2 separate regions of the Homo sapiens genome follow, and region 2 is reported to be linked to region 1. Evidence: microRNA targets listed by miRTarBase, many of them from high-throughput screens and not tested one by one. Region 1 holds a microRNA gene; the other region holds the end of a gene's coding sequence.

Region 1 (4,690 bases):
ATGCCACTGCACTCCAGCCTGAGCAACAGAGCAAGACTCCGTCTCAAAAATAAATAAATAAAAAATTGGCTTCTCCGATACTCCTCCTGTCAAGAATGATTCCTCTGGGTTCCCTGACCTTTTGTTCTAATCATAGCTGCTGCTCAGCGCTCTGGATCCCTAAGTGCGAGCAGAAACCATGTGTTACTCATTGCTGCACCCCTGCCCTAATCTGCATGTGTTCCATGTTAAGTAGCTGCTGAATTGCAGGGGTCGGAATTGAGGTCTTTGCTTAATGCAAGCATCTGTCTTATTTCCTGCCCTGTAGATCGCCACATCACAGAATCGTATCTATCTCACAGCTGACAACCTTGTGCTGAACCTACAGGATGAAAGTTTCACCAGGTGAGAGATGTGGCCACACTGTGGGGTATCACCAAGAACGTGGGACCTGAGTCTGGTTGTTTGGGCTCTGGAGCCTGCTACAGCTATTCATATGGCTCAGAGACATTGAACCAAAATTAGAAAAGGGGGTGGTTGACAGTTTCTATCTTGCATCTCATAGGATTGATTTTATGAGATCAAATAGGATTATTCACATAAAAAGCACTTTAATTATAAAGTTTTCATCTAACCAAAAAGTGATGAAAGATGATACTCAGTTTTCTTACTCAAGAGCCCTCAAACTCCTCTGGTGAATGGAGGGATGTTAGGAAAGGAGATGAGAAATAGCAGTGGCCATGAGAACATGCCTCCTCCTTTCATGAGCCTGAGATTCCTGGCTGTCAACCCTGTTTATCTTTTCTCTTGGGAGCAAAGGAGGGTTCAAAGCTGAGTGGGGCCTGAAGCTGTCAATTAACATGTGCATTTCTCTTCTCTGTTTCTTGTTCATCTGGCGATCTGGCACCACAGGGGAAGGTAAGCTGTTGTTGCTTCTGTGGGGTCCTGCAGGCCACCTTCTCCAGTACCCGCCTCCTACCCTACCCCCTTTCCCACCTCCCCGAAGACAAACCCTCAATCAGGGTAGGAGGGTCGTAGAGGGAATGGCCTAGAGTGTCCTGCCTCTCACATTTATGTCCCCTAATAATGTCATTATCTATCTTTTTTTTCCTACAGTGACAGCCTCATCAAGGGTAAGAAATGAGCCTAGTCACCAAGAACTCCACCCCCAGAGGAAGTGGATCTGCTTCTCCAGTTTTTGAGGAGCCAGCCAGGGGTCCAGCACAGCCCTACCCCGCCCCAGTATCATGCGATGGTCCCCCACACCGGTTCCCTGAACCCCTCTTGGATTAAGGAAGACTGAAGACTAGCCCCTTTTCTGGGGAATTACTTTCCTCCTCCCTGTGTTAACTGGGGCTGTTGGGGACAGTGCGTGATTTCTCAGTGATTTCCTACAGTGTTGTTCCCTCCCTCAAGGCTGGGAGGAGATAAACACCAACCCAGGAATTCTCAATAAATTTTTATTACTTAACCTGAAGTCAAGGCTTCACGTGTTCATGAACTGGGTAACTGGCAGCAAGCATGCGCACGTTCACATGTGCGCTCCTGGGTCTGTCTTTGTGTGTGCCAGCAGGGGGCGCAAAAGAATCTGGCTGGGGCGGCTAAGGGGAAGCAAGGCCTGGGCTCCGAAACAGGACCCAAGCTGGGAAGGCTGGCCCTGAGTTCTCGAGGCCCAGCTGTGCTCTTCACACACCCTCCATTTCTCCCACATCACCCATTTTTTTAAGGCTGGACAGCCATGGCTTTGCTGAGCCAGATTAAAAATCTGATGACCCCAACAGGAGCTGCTTCCTTGGCAGCAGGGTTCCTTGTGGCTGTGGGGAGCCTGCCTGTGCCTGTTGAGGCACTTCTGTGCCCAGAAGCCCAGTGGATCGCGTGGCCTGCTGTAGGCCCCCCAGACTCCATTTCTCAGTCACCAGGCGTGAGGAGCTGCTAGCTAACAGGCCTCCCCTGGGGAGGTGGGCTTTTCATGCCCGCAGTTCCGGGGCCAACAGAACAGGTGCCTGTCTGTTCAGTCCACAGATAAGCTGACACTTATCTTCCCAAGACAGGCCTTCCCGAATCTCAGGCACCAGAGAAACAGAGCCACCGTTTATACCTGAATCTCCCACTACTGCCCATTTCCCATCCCTGCGGGGAGACAAGGAAGATGTGGAACTCAGACAAAACATAGGTGCAAAGTATGTCCAGGAACTGCCAAATGCAGATAGGGCAGCAGGTGGATCTGAACAGAGGGACTGGGTTAATCTGCTTCGATTTTTAAGATATTTTTCTCTGCTTGGGGTTGAGTATCATGAAAGACAAAGCAGACGTCGCAGCCCCAATCCTGAGTTGCTGGGAGGCTAAGATGAGATAAACAACTAGACAAAAGACAGGTCAAGTGACTTGGATCAGTCTTCCTCATGTTCCCCTTCACACTTTATTTATTTCATGCTCCCAAGGCGGGAAGACAATGGAGGTGCCTAGGGAACCAGTGTTTCCACATCTTGCTGCAGCTGTAAAGGCAGCCATTTTGTCTCCTTCCCATTGTTCCCCTTTGCCTAGTGATTCGTCCCCCATCCAGAGGGGTGAAGGTCAGAGGTTGTTGGTCAGTAGTCCTCCATGGTCTTCAGGGCTCCCTGAAGGTTACTGCCGAGAGAACCCACCCGGGAGCCATCTTTACCAGACAGTGTTAGGAGCTTCACAATTAGACCATCCAACACTGTACTGGAAGATGGACCCAGGGCCGGCCGACAGAGAACTACGGTGCGCGCTCACCAGTTGCTACAGGGGACCCTGGCCACAGGCCAGGTGAGGTCTCTTGAGAGGGGGCGAGCCAACCCCAAGCTCAAGGTCGACTGTGGGTTCTGGATCCACCAGGTGACAAATCGCACTGGGTGGGAGGAGGGGCTGGGGCCCATTGTGTCCCTTAGTGGCAGCCAGCCAACAAGAACCACCCCTTGTGCAACGCTCTCAGCTCAAGACGAGGGGCTTCCGGGGTGCGTGGGAAGTGGGGAGGGGGCTGCAGCCAGCTAAGGGCTGGGGACCTGAGGCGATGGATGTTGCTGACACAGGGACAGGGGCCTCCATCATTACCCGGCAGTATTAGAGACTCCCAACCGCACCCAAACACTGCTGGGTAAGACGAGGGCCCCCGCCCAGCCCGCCCACCTTGGGTCAGGCAGCTTCAGGCCCAGGATCCCTGCGGAAAAGCTGCAGATCCCTGGCTCCCATCCCCCCACCACCCGAGTCCCTGGGGACACTTCCTGGTGAGCCCTGCTGCCCGCCACCAGCCACACCCTGGGTCGCTGATCACGAGGCCCAGGTTGCAGTCCAAGCAGGCCCTCCGAAGCCCCTCGACCGTCGGCCCGCCGCCTCTGAGCCACCTTCCCCTACCCCCGGCAGCCTTTCCCGACCCGCGACACACACCGATTTACCCACCCTCATCCCCCCTCTGCAGTCCCAAGCTCAGCCCAGGACCTCTCCCCTGGTGGCCTTTACCTGTCACCGGGCCCACCTGCCCCCAGAGAGTGGGTGCTGGGGAGACGAAGGGGCTTTAAGGCCCCAGATTCCACGGCCTAGAGCCCGCCCTGGCCTCCGCTCTTCCTCCTTCCTTCTCCGCCTGCCGGGCAGCCAGCGCAGGCTCCTTACCTGGGCCCCGCCTGCCACCCTGCGCACAGGTGTGTCCTCCTGCCATAGGCTGCCCCCCCACTGCCTTAACCCCTTCCCTCCCAGCGCCAGCCACGGGCACCTCCTCTAAGGCTTGGCCACTCCTCTAGGCCTCCCACCCTCTCCCAGGGGCCTCTTTTCTCCAACCTGCCTAGTCTCACCCCTGTCTCCAGAGGTACAAAAAGCGGGGGCTGTCCTTGGGTCCCCTCCCCACAGCAGATGCTGCCCCCAGGACTAGCCCATTCCTCTGTGGCCTCAGACCCTGCCCACAGCGGAGCTGCAGGCCAGAGAGATCCCTGAGGTCAGCGAGGGGTCAGCTGGGCAGGAGTTGGGCTGTGCCGCCCCGCAGTGCCCAGCCTGTGCTGGGATCCCCTGAGGGAAAGGGGAGGGAGAAGGCCCCGCCAGGCCTGTGAAGGGCAGGCGGGTCCCAGCAAGGTGTCGCTAGTGTGAAGTTACCCACCGCTACCCAGAGACCCCAGCTGGCCCGGAGCATCAGCCTTGCCCCTCGATTGAGGCCTGCAGAGGGAACGATCGCGCTCCACTCTCCGGACCGAGCTGCTCCCGGACCCACCTCACAGCACAGCCCTCAGTGGAGTCCAAGTCCCACCCCAAGGGCAGGTAGCCCAAGGGCGGTTAGAGGAGGTGGGACTTGCCTTTGTGCAGCTGCGGCTTGTATAGAAAGGGCGTTGCTGGGAGAGGGGACCTGGGCCCGACAGGTGATTGCCCCACCCGTGCCCTGGAGGGCCACAGCCCCAGGGAGCTATTGGGTTGCTCAATCCCTCGCTGTTCTCTCTCCCAGGCTTTGTTTGCTTCCTTCTTAATACCCGCCTGCAATTATTTGATGCTTGTGATCGGTTTGTGAATCTGTCTCCCTGACCAGCCTCCTAAGTTCCAGGAGGTCGGGGGACTGTGAATGCCTGTGACGCCGGGGGCTCTGTAAGGATTTGCTGAGTAATGCACGCCCAGCCTCTGGGCTTTGGGACCTGTGCTGTCTCAGCCTTTCCAGGAGTGGGCGCCAGCACTTCCTGAGGGATGACTCCCACCGGCTTTACTCCCCAGGACA
Region 2 (4,344 bases), not on the chromosome of region 1:
GAGAGGGGCAGGAAAGACTATGAAGATGGGACAGTACAGTGAGAAGTCACATCATTTAGGGCCTTAAATTGCCCATCTGTAAGCCCAGACGTTTGGACTGGATGACCTCTGAGTGGGGTGACCACACGGCCCCATTTTCCAAGGCAACCCAGACTTATACCTGCTTTGCCACTGCAACTATTAGCACCCCTTCCACTCTCAAAAATGTTCCATTGTGGATCATAAATTCTAAGGTTGCCCCATCTGCGAAGTTCTGGCTCTTAATTTCTGTTATTTCATACTGAACCTAATAATACTTCTCTGATGACTGAAGCACGGTAAAATTTCATTTTCCAGGCCTGGAGGTACAGGGAGGATGGTAGGTGAGGTGACCCTTATGTAGAAGTTGCTTTGCATTTCTGATATGGATATTTTTTCAATCTAGGAGCTAGTGCTCCTTTCCTTTAAAAGTACACTAGTAGATCCCCTTCTAGTGGATTTGGCTCCAGTTAATTTGGGATCATTATATAAATATTTGTTTCCTACTTCACACTAATAGTGGCTACTCCTTATTGAGTGCTTACACTAAGGCTAAATGCTGAGTGCATTATCTCATTTAATGCATATATTAATGCTATAAGATAGTTCCTCACCTTATAGATAAGGAAACAGGTTTAGTGAAGTGACTTGCAAGTAAGACACGGAGCCAGGTCTTCCTAAGCTCTTAGCCATTCTTCTATATTGAGATCTGTATGTATACATACAGCAGATAATTAAGAAAGTTATCAGACTCCTAAATTCCCATTGGCCTTTCCTGTATTTATCAGTATCCATGCCAGTCTTTGTAATTTCATCTTCCATTGCTTCAGCCATCCATCTTTACCTCCTAGTACAAACATCTGCCTCAAGTAAACAGATTTTGACTAAGATGCAGATTCTCGGAAAAAACGAAGATGGGATTAGCAAGTAGGTACAATGAATATTTACTTACTTATACAAACCTTTTTTTGTTTGTCTTTCTTTTCCACAGTTTAAAACCGAAAACAGACACTTGTTTTTTTGTTTATATTTACATAAACAATACTTAAAAGAAAAACCACCAGTTGACACCATATCATTCTGCTTTTCTTTATTGTCTGGCTAACTTACAAAGATGCAGATGTCTAGGGTAGTCTCTACCCTACCACTTACACTATCCTGATGACACAGATAGCAAAATGTGTCTGTTTACATAGTGCATGGTATGAAAAAAAAGTTTTTCTTCCTCTACGGTCCTTGACTATAAGGAGGGAAAAATTAATTTCATGCCAACATTTTTGGGGAACTTTAACAATCATCCCATTTCTGCTACTAAAATAACAAAACTGGTATTACACTTTAAAATATAAAGACCTAACAGTTTTTACAAATATGCAAATAATCTACTACTTAGACATAAAAAAAAGTTGATTTCTTTTAAATCACAAAGTAAGGCACCATTGGATTAAACATTTCTCCTGGCTTTTACTAAATAAAATGCATAGTGAAATAAATACTGAACACTGAGTTTTAATACTGTAATACATTTCAATATAAAATAAGAGGTGAATGTTAAAATACTGTATTACATGTTGAATACATTTATCTGAAAATGTTATAAAAAAACACACATGTAAGCTCTGATTTCAGGGAAGAAAAATTCATTTTTGTAATTTTCCATAGTTTAAGATTTTACCACAGAACTTATTCATAGTTTTAGATGCAATTAGGTTGCAAACTTTCAAAGAAAGGGTGTAGGTGTATTAATGAAACAGTCACTTAAACACTACATTCTAAAACAATCTATTCTGGATGAATGGCAACTTTGAGCTATCACCCTGTTTCAGATTTAGAACGGTACCTGCCAAGTTCAGATATGCAAAGGAATTGTCCAATTCTTACTACCCCTTATAAAATTCAGACCCACTTTCTCTGAGTCAGACTTTTCTCCGTCATATTTTCTAGGAAGGGCAAATTCCATCTTTTGTGAAATGGGTCATTAGGCTTTATCATAGGGATGTTTTTCACTGTTGAAATCAGATAAAAGAATCCCAAATAAATGATGCTGCTAAATTACCAAACTGCTAGAGATTAAAAAAATTTTTTTTTAAAAAGCCAACACTTTGCCAAGCTTGTTATACCTTATTATTTCTTGATTCTCTTTGAGTAAAAAGCCCAAATGACTGTATGGAAGAGAGATGAATGGTAGAGGAGAGAGGAAACACAGGTTCTCTAATGTACTAAATCAGGACTTTGGCAAGGAAGTTATAGAAATATAATATATTCAAATCAGTAACTTCATAATTTATTAGACATCCCATTTATTAGAACTCTAAGTTCTTTTGCTTTTATATAAATGAAACATTTATTCTATAAATAGAAATGTATTTTTCAGAATTTTCTTTGGGTTGGTTTCTTGGTAGCATCTCCCAGTAATACATGAATAACATACTGAAACCATGATACAATGTTTAGGTAGATATACATATACATATGTGGTCATGTGTTTTTAAAAAACAAGTAATGGTAATTTTAAACAAAACCATGTAAAATATCTAAGTGGAAATATTTTTTCCCAACTCTATAGCTAGATTTAAAAGTCCCAGTAAAATTTTGTAAACAAAATCATATAAGAAAAGGCAAGGCTGGCTCTTCCCTATGGTCCTTTAGTGGAGCTATATTTGCATAGATCCTAGACAAATGATGCAAAACAAATTCCCTCCAATTTCCACTAGCAATCTCCCTAATTCGCTCAACCCTTACATAAGCATCAGATTTAGATTTTTAGAGTTTTGCCCACCAACTCAAATCGGTTCCCTTCTTCTTCCATGTTTCTGATTTGATATATTTTCCTGACTTTTTTCCCCTCCTACCAAGCCTTCCTAGTCTCTCCCAGCCTCAGGAGCTTGCTCAGCCAGAAAGGAACAAAGGCTGCTTCCATTTCACAAGGCAGAAGTCCAGCTGACAAGTGGAGTGCGTGAGCCAGCTGGTTCTGAGCCCAGAAGTCCCGACAGGCTTTCCATTTGTTTCCAATGGCTTTATTCCACATGACTTTAGTAAACCGTACTCAATCAATTTCTGACCTTGGTACTTTGAAGCAACACTTGTATACAGATATTAAGGGAAGAGGGAAGTTAAGGGAGGAAAATCGAAGGTCAAACTGTGTGTCAAACAAGGTGCTGGGTCCTAATTTTATTTTTAGTTGCCTCTTGAATCGCTCAAGCCCATCTTGCCTTTTTTGTTTTTTAAACAAGAGGTTTCTGCACTAGCTTCCATCTTCCAGACTCGTGCTGTCTAATCCAGTAGCCACCAGCCACATGTGGCTACTGAGCACTTAAAAATGTGACTAGTCTGAATGGAGATGTGCGGTAAGTGTAAAATACACTCTGGATTTTGAAGATTCAGTACCAAAAAATAATATAAAATATCTCATTAAAATTTTATGTTGATTACAGGTTGAAATATTTTGGATGCATATTAACTTCACTTGTTTAAAATATATTAGAAATGTAAAAATTGTATATGGGGCTCACATTATATTTCTATTGGACAGCTCTGTCCTAGAGCCAAGCTCGGACTGCCAAAGATTGGACATCCTGTGACTGCAAGTTTCCAGTGAGCCCTTACTCAGCAGCTTGCTTAGGTGGTCTGTGGTTCATAGAAACAGAGAGGAGGCCAAGCATGCGAAAAAGGAACGGGAGAAAACAGCTCTCAGGGACTTTAATAATTACAGTCTGTAACAAATAAGCAGTGAATGTTTGAATTTGGTTGGTGGAAAGCTGGGATGCAAGTCATCTCTGCCTATTACGACAAAAGCCTATCGACCCCAGCAGCCAGCACAGGCAGGCTGCAGCTGAAGCAAGCAATAGCCTGGAGAATAAACACAATATGAAAAGCTAGGTGCATTTCTTACCGATTCCCACCCACACACGCATATTCCCACTCCCCCTCCCACCTTTCCTCCTGCCCATACATGAGGCACAAGGGAAGAAGCAGGGAGGAGGGTATGCAGTTCTTAGATAGCAACAGAAGCAGCTCTTGAGCTTGGGTAGAGAAGAGCAGGCAAAGATCACCTCGGGATGGGAGGGAGTGGTGGAGCACCCCTTTCTCTTCGGTTGGATCCACCTTGGTGAAAAAACAGACAAAATATAATTTTGGTTAGAAAGCTGATGTTCTCATCGTGGAAACTCGGGGATGGTTGCACGGGTACCCACTACCTCATCCCTATGACCAGGGCTGTCAGCTAACTGGCGTATGTTGTGGATGAGAAGTGAGAGGTGAAAACAAGCAAGTAATGTTCTGAATAAACATCATGGTGGGTGATCCATCACTGGCTCCCAAGTACTT

The links. The annotated mature microRNA hsa-miR-200c-3p reads UAAUACUGCCGGGUAAUGAUGGA and lies in region 1 at 3,044-3,066, opposite strand. An mRNA with a match to its seed (bases 2 to 7 or 8) in the 3' UTR can be bound and repressed. Matches are read on the target gene's strand: a 7mer-m8 pairs with bases 2 to 8, a 7mer-A1 pairs with bases 2 to 7 and ends in A, and an 8mer does both.
Region 2: the mRNA of WIPF1 is a reported target of hsa-miR-200c-3p. Seed matches in the 3' UTR shown: 7mer-m8 at 1,574-1,580, 8mer at 1,529-1,536 and 7mer-m8 at 1,510-1,516.

The regions. Positions count from the first base shown.
Region 1 is chr12:6,962,118-6,966,807 of GRCh38, reverse strand. MIR200C (microRNA 200c) reads right to left here and starts at 3,109; the gene lies at 3,042-3,109. It overlaps PHB2 (prohibitin 2), which reads left to right. Exons shown (of 10, transcript NM_001144831.2): 8 at 308-384; 9 at 892-897; 10 at 1,096-1,481. The coding sequence ends at 1,123. MIR200CHG (MIR200C and MIR141 host gene) reads right to left here and starts at 3,563. Exons shown (of 2, transcript NR_135032.1): 1 at 3,460-3,563; 2 at 2,361-2,607. MIR141 (microRNA 141) reads right to left here and starts at 2,711; the gene lies at 2,617-2,711. It also overlaps LOC105369634. RefSeq lists enhancers at 1,817-1,866, 3,649-4,450, 4,451-4,690.
Region 2 is chr2:174,558,481-174,562,824 of GRCh38, forward strand. WIPF1 (WAS/WASL interacting protein family member 1) reads right to left here. Exons shown (of 8, transcript NM_001375834.1): 8 at 1,094-4,122. The coding sequence ends at 4,067. Among named protein-coding and RNA genes, the nearest start is that of WIPF1-AS1, 15 kb to the right of the region's middle.